2 separate regions of the Homo sapiens genome follow, and region 2 is linked to region 1. Evidence: fine-mapped expression QTL. A gene starts in region 1. The other region holds a variant in brackets. All regions are shown on one strand. Distances are between the middles of the regions.

The links. PIP is the estimated chance that this variant, and not a neighbour inherited with it, causes the effect.
Region 2: its variant is fine-mapped to the expression of RNF146 in blood mononuclear cells (TOPMed, PIP 0.97).

Annotation. Positions count from the first base shown.
Region 1 is chr6:127,258,075-127,274,003 of GRCh38, forward strand. RNF146 (ring finger protein 146) reads left to right here and starts at 8,790. Exons shown (of 3, transcript NM_001242850.2): 1 at 8,790-8,851. RefSeq lists silencers at 8,749-8,848, 8,949-9,218 and an enhancer at 9,419-9,478.
Region 2 is chr6:127,395,130-127,411,058 of GRCh38, forward strand. No RefSeq gene overlaps it. Among named protein-coding and RNA genes, the nearest start is that of KIAA0408, 56 kb to the right of the region's middle. RefSeq lists a silencer at 2,606-2,793 and an enhancer at 9,112-9,221. The variant A/G (reference allele first, on the strand shown) is at 9,922.

The sequences.
Region 1 (15,929 bases):
TCGATACCCTAACATCACAATTAAAAGAACTAGAGAAGCAAGAGCAAACAAATTCAAAAGCTAGCAGAAGGTAAGAAATAACTAAGATCAGAGCACAACTGAAGGAGATAGAGACACAAAAAAACCCTTCAAAAAATCAATGAATCCAGGAGCTGGTTTTTTGGAAAGATCAACAAAATGGATAGACCGCTAGCAAGACTAATGAAGAAAAGAGAGAAGAATCAAATAGACACAATAAAAAATGATAAAGGGGATATCACCACCAATCCCACAAAAATACAAACTACCATCAGAGAATATTATAAACACCTCTACACAAATAAACCAGAAAATCTAGAAGAAATCGATAAATTCCTGGACACATACACCCTCCCAAGAGTAAACCAGGAAGATGTTGAATCTCTGAATAGACCAATAACAGGCTCTGAAATTGAGGAAATAATTAATAGCCTACCAACTAAAAAAAGATCAGGACCAGACGGATTCACAGCCGAATTCTACCAGAACTACAAAAAGGAGCTGGTGCCATTCCTTCTGAAACTATTCCAATCAATAGAAAAAGAGGGACTCCTCCCTAACTCATTTTATGAGGCCAGCATCATCCTGATACCAAAGCCTGGTGGAGACACAACAAAAGAGCACTTTAGACCAATAACCCTGATGAACATCGATGCAAAATCCCCAATAAAATACTGGCAAACCGAATCCAGCAGCACATCAAAAAGCTTATCCACCACGATCAAGTGGGCTTCATCCCTGGGATGCAAGGCTGGTTCAACATACCCAGATCAATAAATGTAATGCCATCACATAAACAGAACCAATGATAAAAACCAGATGATTATCTCAATAGATGCAGAAAAGGCCTTTGACAAAATTCAACAGCCCTTCATGCTAAAAACTCTCAATAAACTAGGTATTGATAGAACAGATCTCAAAATAATAGGAGCTATTTATGACAAACCCACAGCCAATATCATACAGAATGGGCAAAAACTGGAAGCATTCCCTTTGAAAACTGGCACAAGGCAGGGATGCCCTCTCTCACCAGTCCTATTCAACACAGTGTTGGAAGTTCTGGCCAGGGCAATCAGGAAGGAGAAAGAAATAAAGGGTATTCAATTAGGAAAAGAGGAAGTCAAATTGTCCCTGTCTGCAGATGGCATGATTGTATATTTAGAATACTCCATCGTCTCAGACCAAAATCTCCTTAAGCTGATAAGCAACTTCAGCAAAGTCTCAGGATACAAAATCAATGTGCAAAAATCACAAGCATTCCTATACATCAATAACAGACAGAAAGCCAAATCATGAGTGAACTTCCATTCACAATTGCTACAAAGAGAGTAAAATACCTAGGAATCCAACTTACAAGGGAAATGAAGGACCTCTTCAAGGAGAACTACAGATCACTGCTCAATGAAATAAAAGAGGACACAAACAAACGGAAGAACATTCCATGCTCATGGATAGGAAGAATCAATATCATGAAAATGGCCATACTGCCCAAGGTAATTTATAGATTCAATGCCATCTCCCTGAAGCTACCAATGACTTTCTTCACAGAATTGGAAAAAACTACTTTAAAATTCACATGGAACCAAAAAAGAGCTGGCATTGCCAAGACAATCCTAAGCAAAAAGAACAAAGCTGGAGGCATCACATACCTGACTTCAAACTATAGTACAAGGCTACAGTATATACAGTCGACAGAGATATAGACCATTGGAACAGAAAAGAGCCCTCAGAAATAACACCACACATCTACAACCATCTGATCTTTGACAAACCTGACAAAAACAAGAAATGGGGAAAAGATTCCCTATTTAATAAACGGTGTTGGGAAAACTGGCTAGACATATATAGAAAGCTAAAACTGGATTCCTTCCTTACACCTTATACAAAAAATTAATTCAAGATGGATTAAAGACTTAACTGTTAGGCCTAAAACCATAGAAACCGTAGAAGAAACCTAGGCAATACCATTCAGGACACAGGCATGGACAAGGACTTCATGACTAAAACACCAAAAGCAATGGCAACAAAAGCCAAAATAGACAAATGGGATCTAATTAAAGAGCTTCTGCACAGCAAAAGAAACTACCATCAGAGTGAACAGGCAACCTACAGAATGGGAGAAAATTTTTGCAATCTACTCATCTGACAAAGGGCTAATATCCAGAATCTATAAGGCACTTAAACAAATTTACAAGAAACAAATAAACAACCCCATCAAAAAGTGGGCAAAGGATATGAACAGACACTTCTCAAAAGAAGGGATTTATTCAGCCAACAGACACATGAAAAAATGCTCGTCATTGCTTGTCATCAGAGAAATGCATATCAAAACCACAATGAGATACCATCTCACACCAGTTAGAATGGTGATCATTAAAAATTTAGGAAACAATAGATGCTGGAGAAGATGTGGAGAAATAGGAATGCTTTTACACTGTCAGTGGGGTGTAAACTAGTTCAACCATTGTGGAAGAGAGTGTGGCGATTCCTCAAGGATCTAGAACTAGAAATACCATTTGACCCAGCGATCCCATTACTGGGTGTATACCCAAAGGATGATAAATCATGCTACTATAAAGACATGCACACGTATGTTCACTGCAGCACTGTTCACAATAGCAAAGACTTGGAACCAACCCAAATGTCCATCAATGATAGTCTGCATTAAGTAAATGTGGCACATATACACCATGGAATACTGTGCAGCCCTAAAAAAGGATGAGTTCATGTCCTTTGCAGGGCCATGGATGAAGCTGGAAACCATCATTCTGAGCAAACTAGCACAAGGACAGAAAACCAAACACCGCATGTTCTCACTCATAGGTGGGAATTGAACAATGAGAACACTTGGACACAGGGTAGGGAACATCACACACTGGGCCCTGTTGTAGGGTGGTGGTTGGGGGAGGGATAGCATTAGGAGAAATACCTAATGTAAATGACGAGTTAATGGGTGCAACAAACCAACATGGCACATGTATACCTATATAACAAACCTGCACGTTGTGCACATGCACCCTAGAACTTAAAGTATAAAAATATATATATATAGACTCTATAAAACAGAAAAAGAAAATAATTTATCAGTTTTTGCCAAAAGACAATAGAAGTTATGAAATTATAGGTATTTATTCTTATGCTTTCTAGTAGACTGAATGAGAGGCTCTGGCGGAACTAGCTCAGAATTTGAGACAGGTCAAATAATGTAATTGTAATAGCTAAGGTTTTTCAACCTTGGCCAAGTACTTTATCTTAAATTTCATTATCAAATCTCTGAATAGAGGTGATAATTTACCCGTTTTATGGCTACATATAAAAAAATTGACATTTGGATACAGTAAGTAGCATGCCCGAATTAGTTTATGGCGCTCCTGATCCTAGGACTCATCGTGTCTTTACTGAACCTTTACTGATGCATGTCCATATTCCCCTCAGCTGGTCTCTCTCTCTTCACCGTGGTTCTACTCTGGGCTACCTGTGAACACTGGTAACCTCAATGAGTTGCAGTTGTCTCATAGAACAATGATGAAAAGATATTCGTGGACCTGGATCATTATGGTGAAAAAAATGGTTTGTTAAGAGCTTAGAAAATAATAGGCAATCAATTATTCTAGTTCTTTCCATATTTCAGAATATATATCACCTTGAGCAATATAATAAATCATTTTTCAAACTTTTTGAACCACATATTTGATGCCCAGTCTCACAATGGCATTTCTATGTTCTGCTTTATATCTAATGGAGCTGGAAAAAGTTGTTTTTGAGAATCCTTTGACAGATGGTTTCTTGTTTAGTTTTGTCAATTGAAGGCAATCACATGGAAAAAGTAAGTGGAAAGGAGAAGGTGATTTCTTTCCTATTCGTTTCTGGTTCTGACATTGGAGTGGTAGGTGACTGCTTATGGCTGTGAGTTCCTGGACTTCTGCAGGCTCAGTGTGCATATGGGACCCTGACTTCCTATTATAGCAGTTCATAAAAAGTGCTCTAGCAGCCTCCAGGAGCTCCCAGAACACCCTTTGCTCCTCCAAACTTAGATGAGCCAGTGACTTTCTGCAGTTACTGATTTCAAGGTATCTTCATCTTTCTTTTTTGGTTCCTCCAGTTTTCTAACACTTTCACCACCATTTCACTACATTAGAGTCTCTGTCTGAAATACTTAAGGTGGTTTTTGTTTTCCAAAGAGAATCTTGCTTGACAAACTTCTGTGAAAATACTTCAAACTTTTAGGTTATAATTATATTAAACTGATACAGGAAAATGTGACATTGCAAAACATAGTTGCTGCCTTGATGACCTTAAGCAATTTCCTTTATGTGATGGAGTACATTGTTTAAGGGACTATTTTGTTAAAATAATAAGCTAGCTTAAAAAACCTCCACTGTTAAAATACAGCATTTATTCTTATCTTTTAATACTATGGTCAATGAAAGGTTATGTCATTTAATGAAACAAGCATGGACTTTGGAGACATCAGAGCTACTACTGTCAATATAAGACATCTAAAAATTAATAAATACATATTATATACATACAACCAGGTTAGGAAATAAATGCATCGTTGACTTTATAGTCAAACTATAAAGTTTAACTCAGTGACTCTTGGGGCTATTTTCTAGCCATACATTATCCTAATTCAGTTGTAATGTCTGTGGGCAACGCAGGAACATTAAGAACCATTAGAAGAGAAAGCATTGATAATCACAGTAGGTAAAAGAAAAACACAAGCTAAACTGGCTAGTGTACTATTATTTGCAAAGGAGTTCTACTAGAAAATAATATACTGTTTGATTACTGTAAGTAGAACATCAAATGATAGGACAGAAACCAACCTATGTATCAGCTCTGGAAACAAAGTTTTTAATTAAAATAAACAAAGTTTGCTTTCCAAAGCTTCCTCTTGGTTTGATTTCCATTCATCTGCTAGCTATAATGACTGGTACATTCCTGAATCTGGTTTGTTCTGTTTCCAGGCATATGAGAAAGTTGTGTCCACAGCTATCAGATGGTTGCCGGCATGTGAAAAGGGAAGAAATTTAACTTAGAGTTGGTAAGCAAAATAGCCCCAGACAAGCATTCTTATTTGGTCTCAGGACCCTTTGACAGTGCTAATTTATAGAAGACCCCAAAAAACTTTTATGAGCTAATCAATATTTACCAAATTAAAAGTTGAAATTGAGAATGGTTTACAATATATACTAATTCATTTAAAAATGACTCATTGTATTAACATACTTTATTAAAAAAAAAAACACTACATTTTCCAAAACAAAGCTAACTGAATGAAAGAAGAGTGCAGTTTTACTTTTTTTTTTTTTTTACATCGTTTTAATGACTGGTTTAATAGATATAGTCAAATTCTCATATCTGCTTCTATAATCAATCTATTGCTACATCACATACCATGTAGCTTCTGGAAAACTCCACTGTACATTTGAGAGTGCAAGTAAACAAAGCAACTAGAGTCTTAGTATTATTATAAGAACAATTTTCCCTCAGACACTCTGCAAGAGTCAAAGGACCCCTATGGGTCACTAGATAACACTTGGAACACCGCCGCCCTAAACTAGCCACGAGTGGTTTCAACGTACATTCTATTGTAACACATCATTTTCTCATGCATTTTCATGGATGTCTTCAGATATTAAGTAAACAAAAAAAAATGCTTTGATCCTTAAGTAAAACAAATAACATTGGACAATTTTTGAGTGTTGGAAGGATAAATGGAGAAGAGTAGGTGCCTGGAGATGTGTGGTATTCAGCAAAGTATTTTGTAAGTTGTGGGAAATAGACAATAAGCTATAAGCAAACAGGCAACTGGGTAATTCCTAGCAGTCAGCTGCAACTTCTTTACCTTTGATTCAATGAAGCAAAATGGAATCCCAGTGACAGTAACATTATTACAGAAATACATTGAAACTGTTAGGCTCTGATTTATTTAAGCAAATAATTTGAAGTTTTGGTACTTAAAATTACTGGAAACCAGTTACTCTTAATTACTGGAAACCAGCACTCTGACAATGTTGAGAGGTGCTGTCCTGTGTTATTCAAAGATATAAACTTCTATCTTTCTTTCAAGTGGCTGATGGAGGTAGGGTGTATAGTATTCCATGCATTCAATTCTGCTTTTCATATGCAACTACTGAAAAATGAGAAGTTCACTTTTATTCATATATATATACAAATGGGGATATATTCATATATATATATAAATGGAGATATATATATATTCATATATATATATAAATGGGGATATATATACACACTCACATACACAAATGTGGTTTTTGGGGTTTTTTTGAGACGGAGTCTTGCTCTGTTGCAGTGCAGGCTGGAGTGCAGTGACACGATCTCGGGCAACTTCCGCCTCCCAGGTTCAAGCGATTCTCCTGCCTCAGCCTCCCGAGTAGCTGGGATTACAGGCGCGTGCCACCATGCCCAGCTAATTTTTTTGTGTTTTTAGTAGAGACAGGGTTTCACTGTGTTAGCCACGGTGGTCTTGATCTACTGACCTCGTGATCCGCCCACTTCGGCCTCCTAAAGTCCTGGGATTACAGGCGTGAGCTACTGCCCGGCCATGTGTGTATTCATTCATTCATTCATTCATTTACTCATTCATGTAACACATATTTACAGAGAACCTCTTTAAGTGTGTCAGGCACTATTCCTGGCAGTTGAGATACAAAACAGAACACACATTCCTGGCCTCCTGTGTCTTGCGTCCTAATGTGATGAGAAATATGATGAAGATTAGTAAGTAAAATAAATTATCCATTACACTGTGATAAGTATTAAAAAGTAAAGGAGGAAATATGAAATATTGGGAATGGAAACATCATGACTTAAAATATGCTGACAAGTAGAGGGACTGACTGAAGAGTTGGACATCTGAGCACATATGGAGGGAGCATGATGGGGAAGAGTGTTCTAAGCAGAGGAAACCACAACTGCAAAGACTATGAGGTTGGCAGCTTGTGGAGAGCTTTCTGGGAATACAAAGCTGGGTAAACAGTCTGTGGGGTCAAAGAGGTAATGAGGGGAGGATTTTAAAGCCATCGTTAGGACTTTGGTTTTTACTTGTGTTGGGAAGCCACAGGAGACTTTGAGCAAAGGAGTGGTACGATCTCACTTCTTTTTAAGTAGATTTATTTAGGATTCTGTATTAAGGATAGAGTCAAAAGACTAGTTCCTGGTCTACCGTAACACTATAATCCAAACAAGAGATGATGCAGATTGTAGCGGAGGTGGTAAGTAGTTGGATATACTTTGAAGGAAGAGCCAACAGGTTATATGCCAAATGCATATAAGACATAAAAGAGAGGAGTTAAAGGTGGGTTTGAACAAGGAAAGATGCAACCATTTACTGAAATACAAAGACCTTGGGTATGAGTGAGAAGGGGTTGAACTAGCTGACATCTTACAGTCTGTGCCTGGATTCAAATCTCAGCTGTGTGTGTCTCTCTCTCTGTAAAATGGGAATAATAATAGTGCCTACCTCATAGTTTATTATGAGAATTAAGTGGGTATATATGAATAAAGCACTTAGAGCAACACCTGGCACATTGTTAGTTAATATTAGCATTACCTCTTCAAGCTGGAATCTTCGAGTACATATCAAATTTTAGCTATTCTCTGTTCATGGGCTGTGTAGGATAGAGGGACAAAACTGAGTGGCTAATAAGAAGATAAAGATAGAAAACTAAGCTTAAAGTTAAAGGATATACACTTCAATATTTCTACATGTATGGAACAGTATTGCATACACGCGCAAGCATCACTGAACTAGATGCACCCTTCAAGAGATTGGGTTACATATTGATATATATGAATGAGAACCCTGAAATAAACTGATTTCAGAGGAATAACAGAAAACATATACATTTCTATACCTATAAGGACACTGAAAACTTCCAATCCTGAATCAAACAGTTAATGAAATCCCAAAATGCAACACTAATGCAAATGAGAAGACGCTGTCATAGAATGTTGAAATACATACTCTTCTAAAGATAAAAGGTCTGCTCTTCCACCCTCTTCATTTTCCTACAAATTAGGAAAATTTAATCAGTTCTGAAAAAGGAAATGTACATGCTAAAATGGTGAATTACTGCTAGAGTTCTGATGTTTAAAACCACAGGCTTGCGATCAAAATAACCTCTTTAATTTTAGATTATCATGCAGATTAATTTCTTCAGTTTCTCAGGCACTATTCTGTTTTTTTTAAAAAAAGGGTGGGGTTTCAAAAGAAAACTAATACTCATTTTTTCCCCGATTAAATTGCTCAACCATTAAAAAGGAGAACAAATTGGAAAGTCCTACAGTACTCTCTCCCCTCCGTCCCCCCCCTCCCCATTTTTTTTCTTGAAAGGGAACAAGCAGTACTTTTGCTAAGGGATCTTTAAGCCGAAACTCAGCTAGGCGCCCCAGAGCTTCCTCAGGATAGCAAAGCTGGATTTTTGAGCAGCACCACCTGCTGGTCCTACACACGTTTTACTTCCTCCACCCCAAATCTCTTTCTGTTGGAACTGCACTCTTTCAGAGCCTCTGGGCCCTAATACAAAGCAAGCACACTCTAAAGAAGCCAGAAGAATGCAAGCAGCGAAGTCGCCGCTCCCCACAGGCAAGAGAGTACCGGCAGACAGCGGCGCGAGACAGGGGCAGAACGATGAGGCGCCGGAGTTAGCTCGCCGGTGCGGGTGCGGGTGCGCGGCGCGTCGCGGCCCCTCCTCCGCGACGCGCCGGGTGGTCACGTGACGGCCGCGCGCGTTCCCGGCAGCTGCGGGCTCCGAGGCCAGAGAGAAAAGACTGCGAGGTGGCCGCAGCTGTGGCCGGAGAGGTGGGAGTCGGAGCGAGGCCCTCTCGGGGGAGCAGGGTGAACGCCGGCCACTCTAGGATCCTCACTCGGGGAGAGGAGGCATAGCTCGCGGTGTCACCTCCAGCCGCAACGTACTCCGGGTCGGCCTTGCGCTCGGGGCCTGAGAGGGGCGGCGGCGGGGTCAGGGGCCGGTACGTAGATGGACGCCCTTGGGCTGGCGCGGCCCCGGCTGTCCGCGCAGAGGCGGGATGGGACAGTTCAGCCCTTTCCGCCACCCCCGCCTTGGCTGCTGGGGCAGGCAAGACGACCGTGACAGCCCCTGCGCTGCCCGAGGGCGCCGCAGCCCCTGCCCTGGGTGACGGCCGGAGCTGGTCTCGGTCCGGGTGCGAGGGGCGGAGCAGCGGCCATTACTGCGCAGCCTCTTCCGCCTGAGCCCGCTTCGCTGCCTCGGGTGGCAGGCGGGTCCCTCTCCTCCCCTCTGGGCCGTGGTTTTAGGCCTTTACCCGGGGACCTTCTGGCCTCGAGGTGTAGGGGCGGCGATGGTTTTTCGGCGGTAGCCTGCTCCATGTTTTCCCGTGTGGGGTCAGACAGTTTGGGCCTTGGGTCAGATCGAAGCCAGGGCGTACAGTCTGCATTTTTGCCTTTTCCCGGAGTGTCTCTGGCTGCTGCTTTCTCTTCTCTCGCTCTTCCTCCTTTTTTTTCTCCTGCTCAGTGTCTCGGTCTTGCCTAAAACGAAGAGAGCAATCCCTGCACCTTGTCCTAGTGAAGCCCAGCGCTGCATATTCTTAGTTGTTTTTGACGGCTGTTGAAGCATCGGAACAATTAAGAGATCTCAGAATATCCCTTGAGCCTCCAAACCCTCTGCATCTTAAAAGCTGAGGCTGTTGCTTTGTTCTGATTGTTGGGTGGGGAGTTCTCTTCCTACCCTCCATCCCGTCTGAAGGAGTGTGGGTCTTCCATTGTTGTCGCTATTTATTTTGCTAAGGCTTCTAAAGAATGTAAAATTGTTTTAAGAGTGGAGACGGAACCGTCCTCTCCACAGGTAAAACCTACAGGACTGTAAGTTTACACACACATCCTGGCAACTAGAATCTTTTCTCGTTAATCATATTGGTATATGTTTTAATTTATTTTCTCTAAGTGCCATTTTAGTGAGCACTTATTTCTCAAGTTTTGAACATTTTGTTTAATATTTTTGTAATATCGAAACAGTGTAGAACTGAGGAGAGAAGAAAGCCCAAAGATGATAGGGTACGCTTTGTTCTTTGTATGATTGGCATTTCAGGTAGTGGGCACATCCCCCCCACCTCGTGTGTGTACTTTTCAAATGGGATGTGAACGTATAATATTGGCATTCAATCCAGTATATAATTATAGAATTTGGAAGACTTAGGACATTTTAGTCAGTGAATCTATATTTAGACTTTTCAAAGACATGGCACGTAAGGACACGTGGAGAAAATGTCCCACACAGATAACAGGATTTGTGATTTTGGCTTTGCTGTTTTATGATTAGCAAATATTGTTTGTATAGAGTGTCTGGGTGCCCTAAAAACACATGAAAATAGGTCAACTAAATCTCGTTTTAAAGAGAAAACCGGAAGAGTGAACACCACTCTAAAAATAGATTTTGGATGTGTTTGTTTTGGTGCCTTGTATATCTTAAAGTGGAGGATGTTGTTCAGCCCAATCTTTCATTTAGAATTTATGTCTCAAATGAGCCAGTGTATCATGTGGGCAGACTGGAAATACATTTAAATATTTTTTTTCTTCGCTGGTTGTTCAGAACTTGGTAGAATTATAATTATCAGGAAAACTCTCTCCAAATAGCTGGTCTTTTAGACAAGAGAAGAAAAAAGAAATAACTTCTTTTAAAAGGAGATGTCAACTTACAAAGTGTTTTGTTTCAGTCTCCACCAACCTAACTTGTCAGAGGAAAGGAACAGACTTTTTTTTTTAAAGGATCCAAAACGATATTTTGAGTCAAAAGAAGAAAAGGATATTAAATCTTTTGTTTTCACAATATCGATCTTTTTAAAGAATATTATTTTATATGTTAACCATATACTACCAGGAAACATCTAACAGCACTGACAGTTGGGAATTCGAATGCGTATTTTTCTCCCGTGTTAGTAATAGAAGGTACTGAGCCTTTTCCATTCTCTTGGTTGCCTTGTGCCTGAGGAATCTGAATTTGTGAAACAACATCTTTGTGGATATAGAAACTAATTTATGTAACACTTGGCTACAACCACCTGTGCTTACTTACGGACTATCTTTAGTTTTCATGGCGTGTTACCTTTTGGGTTAATTCAAATCCAAAATGTTGTTAACGGACTGCTAATTAAAGCATTTAGAACTTAGAATTACAGAATTATAGAGTAGGATGAGATAACAAAAGACTGGGGGTTATGACTTGACCAAGGTCACACAGATAATTTGCCAAAGAGCTTTCTTATTTATGAAATGGTTGCTGGCTAAGAAACATCTGTGTGTGATATGATTAAAAGACAATATTCGTTCACTTTTACATCTCATGTTTTGAAATAAAATGCAAAGCTCACTTTTTTGTTGTTTTGAGAAAAATTAAAGGGTTTAATGGGCTAGTATAAAGATTGTGAAGGCAGTAAGTAGACTGCCACATAGTAACGTCTTAAAGGGAAATAATTCTTTAAAGTATCAGACCCCATTTAGTTGAAATGAGTTTTGTCTGAAGTTTCCAAGTATGACCTATGCTTTTTCTTAGCTAATTTTTAGCAGGAGATGATGAGGGCTAAAAATTGAGACATTAGGGCATTTAGTTACATCTCTCAATTTGTGACTGGTTTATAAAAAATACTAAGATGTGTCTGCTAACTCACACCTGATTTATCTACTCCTTTTATGTATATATAATTTTTTTTGAGTTGTGTACCAAAAGTTGGAACATTTCAAGTATTTTTTCTTTCTGTCACTGAGTGATTTCATGTAGAACATTTACTGTTTTGTGTATTTTGAATAAATGGCAAAAATCTTATTAAACATTAGCTGTTAATAATTAGAAAAATACAGTAAGTCTTCAAATATTTATAATTGATATTTGTCTTTGTTTTTATATGTATTTATATTGATGTTATATGCTCATCTTTTTCTTTGATTAAAGATAATCGCTTGCTTGAATCTATTACCTGAAAAAAACTCTTGACTTTGATCTTGTGACTGACTTGAAAAGTGGGAGTATGAGTATTTTGAGTTGTTACAAATTATAAATGGTACAATATTACTTCATTTTTAGTTGTATTTATTTTTCACTTATTTGAATGGGTCAAGATTTAAATTCATTGATAATCCCTAAACCCCTTTGTGTATTTTTAAGTTTTACCTGTCACTGTTTTTTTCCTCCAGAATTGTTAGGGGCAAAGTATCTAATTTGGTTTTAGACTTTTTCTTTTTTTTATGTTACCTTCTTCATACATCATCATATTAAGTTTGGTGTAAAATTTACAGGTCATTCATTCCAGTAGGAATTATGTATGTTTGAGTTATTTATGTTTGGCAAATTAATTCTGGCCTGTAGTTGAAATCATACTGTTCTGTTTTACATCCCCCTATTGGTTAAAATAAAAGCATCCCTTCTCCTCCAACTTTAAAAAAACTTTGGTTTCAAATAATGTGGGAGTTTTCTGAGGGCTTCTTCACATGATTGTTATAAGTATTACATGTATGCCCTATTTTGTGCCCAGTTGAAATTATAGTTGACCATTGAACAAAGGTTTGAACCGTGTAGTTCCACTTATACAATACTTTTTTTTTCTGCCCCTGCCACCCCTGAGAGAGCAAAACCAATGTTTCTTTCTCGTCCTCCTGAAAAAGATGAAGGCCTTTATGATGATCCATTTCTACTTAATGAATGTAAACATATTTTTCTTCCTTATGATTTTTTTTTTTTTTGAGATGGAGTCTTGCTCTGTCATTAGGCTGGAGTGCAGTGGTGCGATCTTGGCTCACTGCAACCTCCACCTCCCAGATTCAAGAGATTCTCCTGCCTCAGCCTCCCAATTAGCTGGGACTACAGGTGTGCGCCACCATGCCCAGCTAATTTTTGTATTTTTAGTAGAGACGGGGTTTCACCATGTTGGCCAGGATGGTATTGATCTCTTGACCTCATGATCTTCCTGCCTCAGCTTCCCAAAGTGCTAAGATTACAGGCGTGAGCCACCGCACCTGGCCTCCTTACGATTTTTTAAATAATGTTTTCTTTTTTTTAGTTTATTGCAAGAAAACAATATATAATACAACATACAAAACATATATTAATCCACTGTTTATGTTATCAGTAAAGCTTCCAGGCAATAGTAGACTATTAGTAGTTAAGTTTTTGGAAACTCAAAAGTTTACATGGAATTTTGACTGCGCAGGGTGTAGACATTCTTAACTCCTCACATTGTTCAAGGGTCAACTGTATAAATTCTGAGAGTTAATAGGTGATGGGTCAGTTTGGCAGAATTGGGGCTACCTAAACCCATTAACTTTGATTATAACAGAATATGCAGTTTTCTTTTTTAATGTGTCTTCGGCAAAAGTCTAGGTAAATTAACATTGAATTCATTGTCTCTATTAAACAATTCCTGTAGTGACTTGTCAGTTTTGTATTTAACAAGATTAATATGCAAGACATTCTAGACCAGCATTGCCCAGTAAAGTAGCCACTAGCCACATGGAGTTATTGAGCACTTGACATGTATCCAGTCTGAATTAAGTTGTGCTGTAAGTGTAAAATACACACTGGATTTCAAAGAAGTATGCATACGCTTACCCAAGAACATAAAATATTACATTAACAATTTATATTGAAACATACTGAAGCAGTAATGTAGAAACGTTGGATTAAATAAAATATATTATTGAAATTAATTTTACCTGTTTCTTTCTATTATTATTTTTGTAGAAATGGGGGTCTCACCATCTTGCCCAGGCTGGTCTATAACTCCTAGGCTCAAGCCATCCTCCTGTGTCACTACCCACAAAGTGCTAGGATTACAGATGTGAGGCACCATGCCCTGCCTCTTTTTATTATTAATGTGGCTAATAGAAAATTTGAAATTGCATACGTGGCTTGCATCATATTTCTATTAGATAATACGTGACCTTTTCTGTGAGAGACAATACATTGTAGAAAGACATTTTTAAAGGTAAATTTGAATTTGAATCGCATCTCCCAATATTGATGGCTTTGACTTTGGGTAAGTCATTTAACTTCCTGAGCTTAGGCTTCCTCATTTGTGAAATAGGTATAGTCATATTTCACAGGGTTGTTTTGAGGATTCAGTGACATATGGATTTGGTAGTGTTTCACTAACTAATATATGTGAATCACTTGGAGATCTGGTTCTGTAGGTCTAGGGTGGCACTTAGGATTTTCATTTGTGAAGAGCTCCCAGGTAGTGCTGATAGTACTAGTTGGGAATCCCAGTTTGTTTGTATAGCTAGGATCTAGAGCATTATGTTAGTTTTAATTCATTTTCCTTCCCCAGCATTTATCCAGTTAGTCTGCACTTTGAAAAAATTATTCATGAGGATATAGAAATTGAAAAAGTCACCAAAGCATGCAAGATTTACTAAAATTATATGAACTGTGGACTCTTAGGGCTGCTGTAGGATTCCTGTTTACATCTGTTAAGTTTTTTGTCTGCTTTTATCTGGAGTCACTTTTATTGGTTGCATAAGATGGCTAAATCTCAGCCAAGAAGAACCTGGTTGTGTTGTTCTACGCAAATGTATTTTTGAAAGATAATGCATAATGAGAGGTGAAATAAAAGAATGCTCAAAGACAATAAGAGGGCAGTACAATTGACCCTTGAGCAACATGGGGTTAAGGGTGCCAACCCCTTGCACAATTGAAAATCTGAGTATAAGTTTTGACTTCCCCAAAATTTAACTACTAATAGCCTACTGTAAAGTCAGTTAACACGTTGTTTGTTATATGCATTACATACTATATTCTTACAATAAGCTAAAGGAAAATAAATTCCTAAGGAAGAAAAAATACATTTACAGTACTGCATTTACCGATACTGTGTTTATGTTACCTGTTTATAAGGTGTCTGTCTGAAATGATGGGTAACTGCAGCTGCAGACCCATCTAGGGTGTGTACCAGGTAATTTAACTTCTTGTAATGGCATGACTTCTTGGCTTCTTGGGAGCACTTCTAGCATCACTAGTGGCACTTCACATGGGTCCCATGGTGTTATTCAAGGTTTATGGTATTGTACTAAACATGATGAAAAATACACAAGAACAAGAGATTACATTTTACTCCAATACATGCAGAGATGATTAGTGTCCACAGCATTTTAAGTGGAAATTCATAATAGCAACAGGAAATTATTACAGTATGTACTACAATTAATTTTATACAGCTATGATTCATACTGCATCTTTACATTTGTTTAAATTTCTTGTACCACCTCAAGTGGCACCATATGTGTCTGTGTTTACTAAGTTTTGATACACTTTAACTTCTTATAATTTCTCTATATTTTATAATACTAAATGATAAAATAGACTATATATGTTTTATGCATTCATAATATACCTAATTTTTTCTTTTCCTTTTTTTGATGTTTCAAGACTACATGATTCATCTGCAAGTTTTTTCAAATTGTCACAAATCTCCAAAAAAATTTCCAACATATTTATTGAAAAAACTGTATGTATATAAGTCAACTTGTTCATTTCCAACCTGTGTTGTTGAAAGGTCAGCTGTATGAGGTTATCGTCAAAGATCTTTAAAGAAAGAAATGACATCATCAATATTTTGAAAATTAGAGAAAGCCATTTCTAAAGGAATCCTAGAAATGACTTCAGGCCAGAATTAGAAAAAAAAAAATTGAAGAAATAGGCTAAATAAATATGTCTTTGGCTGTGTTCTTTTGAAAATGGCATTAATGTATAGAAAGATACTCGAATGTGAGTTATGGTCACTGATACATTCTTTTGTTTACTGCTGAACATAACTGGACTAGAGGAGTGTAATGAGGGCAAGGATGTTCTTTCTGTTGAAGGAGAAAGTTTATATTGATGGAAAGTCATTATTCATAGATACTTTGCTGTTATTTC
Region 2 (15,929 bases), 140 kb after region 1:
TTTACAATTGCTTTCCACAGAAGACTCTTTTCCCATCTCTTTGCCTAACTCCTACTTGTCCTCTACCTTTTAATTAAAGGACATTTTCTCAGGGAAGCCTTTCCTGGTGCCCTAAATTAGGTAAGGTTCTCTGTTAAATACTCTCAACATCCCATATTTTTCCTTCATAGCATTTAATTGACCATAATTAAATAATGATCTATATAATTGCCAGTTTAATATGTGTCTTCCTGAAGGATCTGTAGACAATTTTGAGGACAGTCAGCATTTGTTAAATAGATAAATGAGAAACATGAAGGTGTCGTACCTATGGAGACCCTTTCTTGCTCTAATTATTGTTTACTATAGGGACTGCTCATGTCCAGGAACAAATGGCACTAGATATCCTCATGGTGGGATTTGGCAACAAAAGACTTTGCAGCAAAGAGTACAACCTCTTCAGTCTCCCTTGTTAAGGGCAAGTTAGAGACTGGGAAAGAGATTGCTTTCTTGGTGTACCAGTGAAAATTCTCTTTTCACCTGTCCCTTCTCATGGGAAGACTAGCATGTCTCCTCCTCTGCCATCCTCTTTACTCTCAAGTCAGGCACTTGCTGAGTTGTAGGATCTACTGTTTCATCCTGTGCTTCTGGAGTGCGAAGAAATATCTTTAGGATAAGTTGTCTAGGATACATGCAAGGGGCAATCAAAAATCAAAAACTAGAATAAAAGTGTTTAAAAAGCAACAGTAATGAATGAGATTTTTTTGGTGAAAGAAGAGAGAGAACTGAAAGCTGTGGGCCACCTACATTTAAGGGGCCATCAGAGGAAGGTAAAAAGCACCCTGATGGGAGCAACCAAAGTTAAGGAAAGAAAATAGATTGCAGGGGATGGGGGCCAAGAAAAGAGAATCTTTCAAGACACAAAGTCAGTGCCTTCAGTGCTGCAGAAGTTGAAAATGATTTTATAACTTTCAAAATTACTACAAGCAAGGAGATTTTAATAGCCTTAGGGTTATTATTTATTTATTTATTTATTTTTAAAATTAATTTATTTATATCATATAAGAAATTTTAAATAAACTTAGAAAACAGTCCAGGTGTGGGGGCTCATGCCTGTAATCTCAGTACTTTGGGAGGCTGAGGCAGGCGGATCGCCTGCAGTCAGCAGTTCAAGACCAGCCTGGTCAATATAGTGAAATCCCATCTCTACTAAAAATACAAAAATTAGCTTGGTGTGGTGGCAGATACCTGTAATCCCAGCTACTCAGGAGGCTGAGGCAGGAGAATCTCTTGAACCCAGGAGGTGGAGGTTGCAGCAAGCCAAGATCGTGCCACTGCACTCCAGCCTGGGCATCCAAGTGAGACTCTTGTTTCATAAATAAATAAATATATAAAAAAAAACTTAGAAAACAGAGGAAAGAAGAAGGAACATACCTCATCACATAAACGCACACACACCAATAGCAATTTGGTATAATAGCAATTTGGTATAATTATTTACATATTTTTATTTTTATTTATTTATTTTTTTGAGACGGAGTCTCTCTCTGTCACCCAGGCTGGAGTGCTGTGGCGCGATCTCGGCTCACTGCAAGCTCCGCCTCCCGGGTTCACACCATTCTCCTGCCTCAGCCTCCCAAGTAGCTGGGACTAAAGGTGTCCACCACCACGCCTGGCTAAATTTTTGTATTTTTAGTAGAGACACGGTTTCACCATGTTAGCCAGGATGGTCTTGATCTCCTGACCTCGTGATCCGCCCGCCTCATCCTCCCAAAGTATTGGGATTACAAGTGTGAGCCACCGCGCCCGGCCAATTATTTACATATTTTTAATACATGTTTTTATTTTTTGTGTAATGAAAATCAATGACTATATAATGAGGTATAGTTTCTTCAAATTAAAAATAATCTTTTATAGTTATAAAGTTATATCTCAGTCAGGTAGAAAATTCAGATTCAAAATACTTTACTTTTGAATACAGATTCAAAATACTTTATTCAAAATGATGAAACTCTGACCTCCTTCTGGTGATGTCCAGATGGCCTAATTGCTTCATCTTATACTTCTTTTGTTAGAGGTGTTGGAACCAAAGCAAATCCATCTTGACCTGCTGGGCTATATTCCCAGGAGGTTAAGGCATTCTTAGTCACAAGATAAGATAGGAGGTTGTTGGTAGAAGAGCTGAGGCGGGACTAGCTTGTCCGTCATAATGTAAAAGAGTCTTGGAACACGTCCTGGGTCCAGGGTCTAAACCCCCTCGTGGCCTTTGGAACACCAAGTTCTGTGCCAAAGGGTGGAAGGCTGCCCTGCTGCACTACAATCTAAGCCCAGGGCATAAAACCTCTCATGGCTTGGATGGAATCCAAGGCTCAGGGCATAAAACCCCTTGTGGCCACTGGAATGTGCACAGACTTGCTCGTTCCTTGCTTCTTGCTCTCCCAGGCTCATAAACATGTTCTCCATTATCTCAGGTAGCAGAACATATTACATTTGTGTCAAAGAAAATACTAAACAGTCACAACTGTGCTTGATGCACTGCTACCTTTCTACCCCCACGTCCTCACGTCCTCACCTGTTTACCCCCACATCCTCACATCCTCACCACCTGCTTCTTTGTTTGATCACCAATAAATAGTGTGGGCTTCTAGAGCTCCAAGCCTTCGCAGCCTCTATACTAGTGTTGGCCCCCTGGACCCACTTTACACATTCTTAACTTGTCTTGTCTCATTCCTTTGACTCCAACAGACTTCGTAGCCCACAAGGCCTGGTGTTGGGCCTGATCATCCCAATAGAGGTCAGCACAATATGTAGATCACAAAGACCTTGCTGATAAAACAGCATGTGGTAAAGAAGCTGACCACATCCAACCAATACCAAGATGGAGAGAAAGTGACTTCTGCTTATATTCACTGCTCATTATGTGCTAATTATAACGCATTAGCATGCTAAAAGACACTCCCACTAGCACCATTACAGCTTACAAATGCCATGGCAACAGTCAGGAAGTTACCCTATATGATCTAAAAGGGGAGGAACCCTTAGTTCCAGGAATTGCCCATCCCTTTCCCGGAAAACTCATGAATAATCCACCCTTTTTTAAGCATATAATCAAGAAGTAACAATAGGTATAGGCAGCTGAGGAGCTCTTGCCACTGCTCTGCCTATGGAACAGCCACTCATTTATTCCTTTGCCTTCTTAAACAACTTGTTTTCCCTTTACTCTACGAGCATGCCCTGAATTCTTTCTTGTGCGAGGTCCAAGAACCCTCTCTTGAGGTCTGGATTGGGACCTCTTTCTGGTAACACTTTCACAAACAGTTTGTCTATTATCAAGTAACTTTTTTTCCAAAACATGATCTTGTAAGTGCTTATAGCATAGCTTTCCAAATTGCTCTGTTGGACTGGACAAAAACAAAACCAAAACCAAAATAAACATTCTCCATATCCAAAAGTTACTAGCTCATACAAATATCTCTTTTAAATATGTTTAATTAGATGAATTATTTTTATATTATGTGATTTAAAAAGATGAGTTCAAAGGTTAAAAAAGTTTTGTTCTAATTTTTCATGGTGATCTAACTAGAAGAAAAAGGCCAACGAATATTGGTTGAATAAATAATAAAAAAAGGCAAATAACGTATTTCTGCATCTTTGCCCTACAGAAAGAAGGGTAATGAACAGGCTAACTTTGACTGTTTTTTTGTTTGTTTTTTATTTTGTTTTCATTTTTTTTGAGATGGGTTCTCGCTCTGTCTCTCAGACTGGAGTGCAGTGGCACGATCTCGGCTCACTGCAACCTCTACCTCCTTGGTTCAAGCAATTCCCCTGCCTCAGTCTCTCGAGTAGCTGGGATTACAGGTGCATGCCACCATGCCTGGCTAATTTTTTTGTATTTTTAGTAGAGAGAGTGTTTCACCATGTTGGCCAGACTAATCTCGAACTCTTGACCTCAGGCAATCCACCCGCCTTGGCCTCCCAAAGTGCTGGGATTACAGGCATGAGCCACCGTGCCTGGCCTTTTTTTTCACTCTTGTTGCCCAGGCTGGAGTGCAATGGCACAATCTCGGCTCAATACAACCTCCACCTCCCGGGTTCAAGAGATTCTCCTGCCTCAGCCTCCTGAGTAGCTTGGATTACAGGTTCCCGCCACCATGCCCAGCTAATTTTGTATTTTTAGAAGACACGGGGTTTCTCCACGTTGGTCAGGCTGGTCTCGAACTCCCAACCTCAGATGATCCTCCTGCCTCTGCCTCCCAAAGTGCTGGGATTACAGGCATGAGCCACTGTGCCCAGCCTAACTTTGACTGTTATAGACAGTATAACACGAATTTTAAAATATAAAATATTTTAAGGAGGAAGACTGCCCTGCCTTTCTCTAAGTTCACATCAATTTGGGTCCTGATACCAATAATAATGTTTTTGTTACATTTAACCCCAATTGGGATGAGGTTCTAAAGGACTTCCAGATCTGATCCTTTTCCTCTCATTTTTATTTCTACCTGCCTAGAGCTACAAATCAAATTTAATAGCTCAGAAAGGGGAGTGTTGCATCCCATCTGTTAGAAGACCAATTATATTGTTTATTTGTTTCTCCCCACTTGGCCAAACAATATTCTTTTACAAAGTTGATTTTCTTTTTTTTTTCCTGTATCTGTTATATCTTTGGCTGCTTGGCCTCATGGCTTATTAATACTTCTTGCCTTTTTGCACCTCAGCTTTACATGTTTTTGGTCATCCTCTGTGAGGGTGTTTATGCATTCTACCATCAGCTTTCTGTCAAGTATCTCATTACTGCTTTCTTAAGGACAATGGAGGTCCTCTCACCTGTTTATCTCTGTGGATGAGAACAACACTGTATCCTGGGTACAACCCTGGTGTTTAAACTCTTTATCAGGACATACCTCCCCCACAGAGTGTGTGTGTTATGGGGTAAAATGGAAGAGGAGGGAGACAAAAAAAGCAAGAGGGTTTCCTGCCTTCTTTTCTCCTGTTACCATTTTCATTTCACCCACTCAGTGTTATGCTTGTTCTACTCCAGGCCATGCTGAGAAGCATCTGCTGACCCTGACTCTCCCTGCTTCCCAGCCTGTTCCTTGAGAAGGGAACACCCTGTACAGATGCCTCAATACCTTTCTTCAAACTCTCCTTCTAGCAGGAAGGAAATTTACTTTACCCGCCCCTGTGATCAACCCCCAACCCCTATCCTATGCCCAAACATCCTGAGTGTTCTAAATCCTTGGGTTATTTCCTCAGTCTAAATAATTCATATTAAAAAGACAAAGATTCAGAATTTTTAAGCCATTCTTATCTGAATTTGTTACCTGTATTAGTTCATTCTTACATTGCTATAAATACCCGAGACTAGGTAATTTATAAAGAAAAGAGGTTTAATTGGCTCACCATTCTGCAGGCTGTACAAGAAACATAGCAGCTTCTGCTTGGCTTCTGTGGAGGCCTCAGAAAACTTACAATCATGGCAGAAGGTGAGTGGGGAAGCAGGCACATCTTACATGGCTGGAGCAGGAGGAAGAGAGACAGTGGGGTGGTGCTACACACTTTTAAACAACCATCTCTCTCAAGAACTCTATCATGAGAACAGCACCAAGAGAATGGTGCTAAACCATTCAGGAAGGATCCACCTCAATGATCCAATCACGTCTCACCCGGCCCCACCTCCAATATTGGGGATAACAATTTGACATGAGATTTGGACAAGGACACAGATTTAAACCATCTCACTTCCTCTGCTTGAGTTGACCAGACAATAATTCATACCAGTGGTATGATTCTATCAGGCTCTGTCTGATAGAATATGAGCCATTTACAATTCCTCTTCAATTTCTTTCTTTCTTTTTTTTTTTTTTTTTTTTTGAGATGGAGTCTCGCTCTGTTGCCCAGGCTAGAGTGTAGTGGCGTAATCTCGGCTCACTGCACCTCCACCTCCTGGGTTCCAGTGATTCTCTTGCCTCAGCCTCCCGAGTAGCTGGGATACAGGCGCCCGCCACCAAGCCCAGCTAATTTTTGTATTTTTAGTAGAGACAGGGTTTCACCATCTTGGCCAGGCCGGTCTTGAACTCCCTGCCTCGGCCTCCCAAAGTGCTGGGATTACAGGCGTGAGCCACTGCGTCCTGCTTCCTCTTCAGTTTCAAGATTGTTTCTGGGAGCTCTGATGTCCCTGATTTTATAATATACTCAAGGACTTCCATAAAACATGCAATATGGTTTTATGGGAAGTGATTTGAATGCTGCTGTCCATTACCTAATGTGACATTATTTTAGGAGAAAATTCTTTCCAGTATTCCAAGTTTCCGGAGGAAGATTTTTCTGGGTGTGATTTTCTGGGGTCTCTGAGATTGTGCCTGGTTCAAGGTGCTGCACTCTCTTCCTGTTCACAGAGCCCATTTCAATTCAGAGTCCTCCCCACCAATCAGCCTGCCCAGTCTAAAAATCTGCCTCATAGTGACTCTAAAGAAAAAGGCAGAAATCAGAAGACAGCATAGCCAATGGTGAACTTCAACTGAACCTAGGCCTATGCAGGTTCTTGAGCTACAGCCCTCGCCCCTGACATGTTCTAATGTCCAGTCAAAAAAAGGATGGAAAGAACAATGATTACAAGAAATGTTCTATTATGTGTCCTGACTCAGAAATAAAATGAGAAGGGGTAATAGCTAAAATTGGCTTTAGACTGCTTGCTGAGTAGTTTTATCTAAAATATGAAAGTAAATGAGGGCTATATATATATAATTTAAATAATATATTGTATTTAATGTAATATATACAAAAAATTATATCAATATCTAAACAATACAGAAGTGATTAATGAGATAATTTACATTCTCATTTATTGGTAGTGAGTCTTCAAAAATTTGTGTGTATTTTACATGTATAGCACATCATTAGTGGTTTTGCTAAAGATATAAAAAATAAATGTTATAAAATGTATGATAATTTATTCATTAAATTTATCTTTATTGTGTTACTCATCACATCACCTGTCTATCAACAAAACACCCTGATATGTGTAACAGTAATTGAATTCAGTCAAATTTGGTATTTTGCATACTTTCAGTCATATAAAAACCATAGTGTTTACACATATTTTGCAATTTTGTTGCTATGATGGTGACATATAGATTATGGGTCTCTTTTTGTACTATTGCCCTAAGCCCCACAAATGTTAGGGGCAGGCCTGATTTCTTTCTTTCCACCCTACAACCAAGTACAATTGGATAAGAGACTCCAGGAGCCCTCATCCTCTTTCCTGACAACACTTATCACCATGCCTTCTTATTCCTGAATATTGTCTGACATAACCTATAATTATTTTCAACCTTTTCCCTTTTAATGAATAAATATTTAAACTAGTGTAGTGTCTTTTTTCAATCTATGGGTTCTTTCACTTATATCATCTATTTGATGTATAACGAATTCCACAAGGTAGGTAGTAGCACATAAGGAAAGAGGCTGAGAAAGTTCAAGTGATGTGACTCACACTTAACAGTTAGTATCTCTGCCGGGTGCAGTGGCTCACACCTGTAATCCCAGCACTTTGAGAGGCCAAGGTGGCTGGTAAATCACCTGAGGTCAGGAGTTCGAGACCAGCCTGAACAACATGGAGAAACCCTGTCTCTATTAAAAATACAAAATCAGCCGGGCGTGATGGCGCATGCCTGTAGTCCCAGCTACTCAGGAGGCTGAGGCAGGAGAATCGCTTGAACCCAGGAGGCAGAGATTGCAGTGAGCCGAGATGGCGCCATTGCACTCCAGCCTGGGCAACAAGAGTGAAACTCCATCTCAAAACAAACAAACAAACAAACAAACATCCCAAACAATTAGTATCTCAGGGCTTCTCATTCTAAGTTCTTGCTCTTTCAAATGTATTTTGTTTCCTCATTTTGGGTGTGATTTAGACCAGAGGAAATGGGAGCCAGGAAGCCTTTTAAGTGGAGCAAAAGCATGAGCAAAGAAGTAGAAAATAGCAGTTCAGTTGGGCCGAAGCCCGTGGTCTGTGTTAAGGAAAGATAAAAAATGTGGGAAAGAACAGAGCTGTATTGATGAAGCCTTGGATGTCAAAGTTGGGATTTTGCATTTTATTCTGATGACTGAAGCAATATTTTTTAGAGAAAGTAATTGAAATAAAGAAGTTTTATTTTTTATTGATAAAAATGTCATCAATGTACTCGAGAGGAAGCTGGTATTCATCTGAGTAGGAGAAGGAGGACAGATCAGTAGTTGAACTTGCACTTGAGATGAGAAGCATCTGCCACCCACACCTTCCTATTGTTCTACCTTCCTAATCCTGACCAGCTGTTTCCTTAGTGTGTACAACTGGTTGTACGGGTGGCAGGGTTACAGAGGATAGATGGGTCAGTTCCAACTTGTACCATTTTTTTGCCACATGCCCAAATGAGGATGAATTAGTCACATTTTTGCACACTAAGGACAAGGCATTTATTTTTTCAACTGATATATAGTATTTTTATAAACTTCTGGCTTAAGAGGCAGACAAAAATTATATGTTTAGATTTTTTTAAAAAATTATCAACATGGCAGAGTAATCACTTTAAACCCTGTGTGAGATCATGCCATGTCTTTGCTTAAAACCCTGAAATGGCTATTTTACTCAGGGTGCAAGCATAAGTCCTTAAAACATCCTACAAGGCCCTACACAACTTGGTTCCTTATTACCTTTCAAGTTTCGCTTCTATTTCTGTCTCTCTTGCTCACCCTTTGCCACACTGGAGTCTTTGCTGTGCCTCTGACACACTAGGCACATTGCTGTCTCAGGTTGTTTTAACTTGCTATTTCCTCTGTCTAAAACAAGCTTGTCTAACCCATGGTCCGTGGGCTGCATGTGGCCCAGGATGACTTTCAATGCAGCCCAACACAAATTCATAAACTTTCTTAAAACATTATGAGATTTTTTTTGGTGACTTTTATTTTTAGCTCATCAGCTATCATTAGTGTTCGTGTATTTTCTGTGGCCCAAGACAGTTCTTCCAGTGTGGCCCAGGGAAACCAAAAGATTAGACACCCTTGGCCTAGGGCACTCTTCCACAGATACCAAAAGAGTTTACTTCCTCACCTCCTCCTGGTTTTTGCCCAAATATCCTCTTCTCAGTGAGGGAGTCCTCTCTAATCACTCTTTAAATGGAATCCTCACCCCAGCATACCCTATCTCTTTCTGTTTCATTTTCCAACATACCATCTGACATTCTGTATCTTTTATTTATGTATTGTTTTCAGTACCTCTTCTGGTAGAAAATAAGCACCAAGGGAAGGTATCTGAGCAGTTTTGTTCATGGTCATGTCTCTCAAGACCTTAGAACAGTGCCTGACACATACAGGTGCTTGATAAATAGTTGTCAAAATAAATGAGGCCTTTTACTTCCTGATGGTTGGGCATAACATCTTTTTGAACATCTTAGTTTATTAAAGAAATTGCTAATCTTCTTATTCATTTCAGTGAATCTAGAGAAATTTCTTCATCCTCCTGATTATTTTGGGTTTCTGAATTAGATGTTTTATTTTTATTTTTTTTCCTGGGGTTGGCAATGTCACCAGGGTTTTAATTAGTGTGACTAAAGATGAGCTGTTTTCTTCTAGATCAGAGACTGGGGCATGTCAAAGCCTGGGTGTAGTGAATTTTTATAATTTTATGTTGCCTTGGCATCCATTTTGAGTATAAGTTTAACTTCCTCATACTAGAATCAGGGGTTAGTCACCCTTGAAACAGTTTGCAGTTCTATACCATGCCCAAATGGCTCAAGCCAATGGCCAAAGCTAAGAACTTCTGGATGTCTCCCCCGCTAGCAGATTGTACTCCCTGCTTTCCCACTGCTTCCTTTAAACAGACCATATAGGCATTTGCCTGTGAACTTAGTAACCTACAGCCTAGTCCGTTGTCTATCCTGCTAGTTGCCACACACACTCTTTCTCAAT[A/G]CCTAACTCTTCATGTTCTCCTCTTGTGCCAGGGGATGGAAGATTGCCCTCCAGATTCATCGCACCCTTCTTGCCCAGATTCTGAAAGTAAAAATCCTTGAACTTCCTATTTTGGTGGTGGTTTGAATTTGCTCCTTCCATTCTCAAGAACCAAACTGCAGGCTGGGTTTTCCCTGGGATGTCAGGACTAACACACAGTTGACCTCTCAGCCCCAGAATGATGGTTAGGTAGGCATACACTAAACACAGGTCAGATAAGAGCCACAAGAGTGTCTTCCAGTATAAATAAGTTTTCCATGTGAGGAACCCCTTGTCATTGGTCAAACAACTAGACATTATGCTCTTTGCTAGGTGAAAGACCCACGTCCAACTCCCCCTCATTTATCTTAGCAGGGCTGCCAGTGGGGCAGGGTTGCTAGCCACTCTGCTACTGGAATCCTAGTTTATCTGTGGGATCCCAAGACAATGGGACCTTGTGAAATCTCTATCTGCTGGCTGGGATATGGATACTGTCTGTGATCAGATATATTATTACTCATTCTGTCTAGTCTGTCATTTTCACTCTGATTATATCTTACCTGTATGTATTTAATTTGTGCTATTACAATATTGTTTTATGCTCACCAACCTCCTAACTTTGGAAAGGATTCAAAGCATGTATATTTTCTGTCTGTAGCCAGTTTTTATACTTGAAGGCAAAGGACCAGTTTTCTATGATGTTCAAAATGATAGTGTGTACAGAGGCTCAATAAATGTAGGTTGACTTGGTGCAGTGACTACTGTCTTTTAATGCCACAGAAATTATTGTCATAACACATGGGTATCAATCATACCAAGCTATATAAGATCCATACAAGAAGAAATAAATTTTTTATGTCCTGAAAAATATCAAGAAATATGGAATCAGAAAATGGAAGGAAAGGAATAATTAAGAGTCATTTTATATTATATGGCTTCAATGTTTATATCTAATTATTTAAGCATTGAAAACATTTCAGAATGCAGATTATCCTAATGTGTTTTGCTTTCATATATTTTATAAAAGTAATTGGTATAATATTCATCAAAACCATTTTAGTGATCTCTTCAAATCCATAGATTCTCCTTACACTTCAGTGCCAGAGAATTTTAGAAGTAGGACCAAGGTCTGTTGAAGAAAATACTAGTGACGTGGCCTTTATTATGTTGTCTCAGCAAGGTTGAAGATAACGATTTCAGCCCTGATCTATAAAGATAAAGAGGCAATGTTTTCTAACACAAGATCTCACCTATTGGTAAGTCTTAAAGCCCCACCCTAACAGAGTATGAACCAGTTGTTACTGCTATCTCATTCATTTCCTCTCTGCCATGCTTCTTCCCGGTTTCTTGGTTATCTCAAGGCCTTTGGGAAACAAGACTGTTCTTCAGAAAATGTTTGAGGTCCTTGAATACAGAGACTATTTACTAGAGATGATAATGACCCAAGTTTCTTATATTAAAAACAACAACAACAACAACAACAACAATTCTTTGAATTTCTGGGCACTGCTACAAAGAAAGAGTTGACATAAGTGTATATCTTTGTTTTAAAATATACTCTAAGTTCTAGGGTACATGTGCACAACATGCAGGATTGATACATAGGTACACATGTGCCATGTTGGTTTGCTGCACCCGTCAACTCATCATTTACAATACGTGTTTCTCTTAATGCTATCCCTCCCCCAACCCCCACTCCGTGACAGGCCCCAGTGTGTGATGTTCCCCGCCTTGTGTCCAAGTGATCTCATTGTTCAATTCCCACCTATGAGTGAGAACATGTGGTGTTTGGTTTTCTGTCCTTGTGATAGTTTGCTGAGAATGATGGTGTCCAGCTTCGTCCATGTCCCTGCAAATGACATGAACTCATCCTTTTTTATGGCTGCATAGTATTCCATGGTGTATATGTGCCACATTTTCTTAATCCAGTCTATCATTGATGGACATTTAGGTTGGTTCCAAGTCTTCGCTATTGTGAATAGTGACACAATAAACATACATGTGCATGTGTCTTTATAGTAGCATGATTTATAATCCTTTGGGTATATACCCAGTAATGGGATGATGGCTGGGTCAAATGGTAATTCTAGTTCTAGATCCTTGAGGAATCTCCACACTGTCTTCCACAATGGTTGAACTAATTTACACTCCCACCAACAATGTGAAAGCTTTCCTATTTCTCCATATCCTCTCCAGCATCTGTTGTTTCCTGACTTTTTAATGATTGCCATTCTAACTGGCATGAGATGGTATCTCATTGTGGTTTTGATTTGCATTTCTCTGATGACCAGTGATGATGAGCATTTTTTCACATGTCTGTTGGCTGCATAAATGTCTTCTTTAGAGAAGTGTCTGTTCATATCCTTTGTCGACTTTTTGATGGGGTTGTTTGATTTTTTCTTGTAAATTTGTTTAAGTTCTTTGTAGATTCTGGTTATTAGCCCTTTGCGAGATGGGTAGATTGCAAAAATTTTCTCCCATTCTGTAGGTTGCATGTTCACGCTGATGGTAGTTTCTTTTGCCTTGCAGAAGCTCTTTAGTTTAATTAGACCCCATTTGTCTATTTTGGCTTTTGTTGCCATTGCTTTTGGTGTTTTACTCGTGAAGTCCTTGCCCATACTTATGTCCTGAATGGTATTGCCTAGGTTTTCTTCTAGGGTTTTTATGGATTTAGGTCTAACATTTAAGTCTCTAATCCATCTTGAATTAATTTTTGTATAAAGTATGAGGAAGGGATCCAGTTTCAGCTTTCTACATATGGCTAGCCAGTTTTCCCAGCACCATATATTATATAGGGAACCCTTTCCCTATTTATTATTTTTGTCAGGTTTGTCAAAGATCAGATGGTTGTAGATATGTGGTGTTATTTCTGAGGCCTCTGTTCTGTTCCGTTGGTCTATATATCTGTTTTGGTACCAGTACTATGCTGTTTTGGTTACTGTAGCCTTGTAGTATAGTTTGAAGTCAGGTAGCATGATGCCTCCAGCTTTGTTCTTTTTGCTTAGGATTGTCTTCTCAATGAGGGCTCTTTTTTGGTTCCATATGAACTTTAAAGTAGTTTTTTCCAGTTCTGTGAAGAAAGTCATTGGTAGCTTGATGGGAATGGCATTGAATCGATAAATTACTTTGGGCAGTATGGCCATTTTCATGATATTGATTCTTCCTATTCGTGAGCATGGAATATTCTTCCATTTGTTTGTGTCCTAATTTACTTTGTTGAGCAGTGGTTTGTAGTTCTCCTTGAAGAGTTCCTTCACATCCCTTGTAAGTAGGATTCCTAGGTATTTTATTCTCTTTGTAGCAATTGTGAATGGGAGTTCACTGATGCTTTGGCTCTCTGTTTGTCTGTTAATGGTGTATAGGAGTGATTTTTGCACACTGATTTTGTATCCTGAGACTTACTGAAGTTGCTTATCAGCTTAAGGAGATTTGGGGCTGAGATGATGGGGTTTTCTAAATATACAATCATGTCATCTGCAAACAGGTACAATGTGACTTCCTCATTTCCTAATTGAATATCCTTTATTTCTTTCTCTTGCCTGATTGCCTGGGCCAGAACTTCCAACACTGTGTTGAATAGTATTGGTGAGAGAGGGCATCCTTATCTTGTGCCAGTTTTCAAAGGGAATGCTTCCAGTTTTTGCCCATACAGTATGCTATTGGCTGTGGGTAAATAGTTCTTATTATTTTGAGATACGTTCCATCAATACCTAGTTTATTGAGAGTTTTTAGCAAGAAGTGCTGTTGAATTGTGTGGAAGCCCTTTTCTGCATCTATTGAGATAATCATGTGGTTTTTGTTGTTGGTTCTGTTTATGTGATGGATTACATTTATTGATTTGCATATGTTGAACCAGCCTTGCATCCCAGGAATGAAGCCAAATTGATCATGGTGAATAAGCTTTTTGATGTGCTGCTGGATTCAGTTTGCCAGTATTTTATTGAGGATTTTCACTTCGATGTTCATCAGTGATACTGGTCTAAAATTCTTTTTTTTTGTTATGTGTCTACCAGGCTTTGGTATCAGGATGATGCTGGCCTCATAAAATAAGTTAGGGAGGATTCCTTGTTTTTCTATTGATTGGAATAGTTTCAGATGGAGCAGTACCAGCTCCTCTTTGTACCTCTGGTAGAATTTGGCTGTGAATTCATCTGGTCCTGGACTTTTTTTTGGTTGGTAAGCTATTAATTATTACCTCAATTTCAGAGGCTGTTATTGGTCTATTCAGAGATTCAACTTCTTCCTGGTTTAGTCTTGGGAGGGTGTATGTATCCAGGAATTTATCCATTTATTCTAGATTTTCTAGTTTATTTGCATAGAGGTGTTTACAGTATTATCTGATGGTAGTCTGTATTTCTGTGGGATCGGTGGTGATATTCCCCCTTTATCATTTTTTTATTGCATCTATTTGATTCTTCTCTATTTTCTTCTTTATTGGTCTTGATAGTGGTCTATCCATTTTGTTAATCTTTTCAAAAAAACAGCTCCTGGATTTGTTGAATTTTTGAAGTGTGTTTTTGTGTCTCTATCTCTTTCAGTTCTGCTCTCATCTTAGTTTTTATTTCTTGCCTTCTGCTAGCTTTTGAATGTGTTTGTTCTTGCTTCTCTAGTTCTTTTAATTGTGATTTTACGGTGTCAATTTTAGATCTTTCCTGCTTTCTCTTGTGGGCATTTAGTGCTATAAATTTCCCCCTACACACTGCTTTAACTGTGTCCCAGAGATTCTGGTACATTTTATCTTTGTTCTCATTGGTTTCAAAGAACCTCTTTATTTCTGCCTTCATTTAGTTATGTACCCAGTAGTCATTCAGGAGCAAGTTGTTTAGTTTCCATGTAGTTGTGTGGTTTTGAGTGAGTTTCTTAATTCTGAGTTCTAATTTCATTGCACTGTGGTCTGAAAGACAGTTTGTTGTGATTTCTGTTCTTTTACATTTGCTGAGGAGTGCCTTACTTCCAATTATGTGGTCAGTTTTAGAATAAGCGCAATGTGGTGCTGATAAGATTGTATATTCTGTTTATTTCGGGTGGAGAGTTCTGTAGATGTCTATTAGGTCTGCTTGTTGCAGAGCTGAGTTCAGGTCCTGGATATCCTTGTTAACCTTCTGTCTTGTTGATCTGTCTAATATTGACAGTGGGGTGTTAAAGTCTCCCATTATTATTATTATTATTATTATTATTATTATTATTTTTCTTTGAGATGGAGTCTCGCTCTGTGACCCAGGCTGGAGTGCAGTGGCGTAATCTCGGCTCACTGCAAGCTCTGCCTCCCGGGTTTATGCCATTCTCCTGCCTCAGCCTTCCGAGTAGCTGGGACTACAGGTGCCCGCCACCACGCACGGCTAATTTTTTGTATTTTTAGTAGAGACGCGGTTTCACCGTGTTAGCCAGGATGGTCTTGATCTCTTGACATCGTGATCCGCCCACCTGGGCCTCCCAAAGTGCTGGGATTACAGGCGAGAGCCACTGTGCCGAAGTCTCCCATTCTTATTGTTTGGGAGTCTAAGTCTTTTTGTAGGTCACTAAGGACTTGCTTTATGAAGCTGGGTGCTCCTGTATTGGGTGCATATATATTTAGGATAGTTAGCTCTTCTTGTTGCATTGATGCCTTTACCGTTATGTAATGGCCTTCTTTGTCTCTTTTGATCTTTTTTGGTTTAAAGTCTGTTTTATCAGAGACCAGGATTGCAACCCCTGCTTTTTTTACTTTCCATTTGCTTGGTAGATCTTCTTCCATCCCTTTACTTTGAGCCTATGTGCATCTCTGCACATGAGATGGGTCTCCTGAATACAGCACACTGATGGATCTTGCCTCTTTATCCAATTTGCCAGTTTGTGTCTTTTAATTGGGGCATTTAGCTCATTTACATTTAAGGTTAATATTGTTATGTGTGAATTTGCCCCTGTCATTATGATGTTAGCTGGTGACTTTGCCCATCAATTAATGCAGTTTCTTCATAGCATCAATGGTGTTTACAATATGGCCTGTTTTT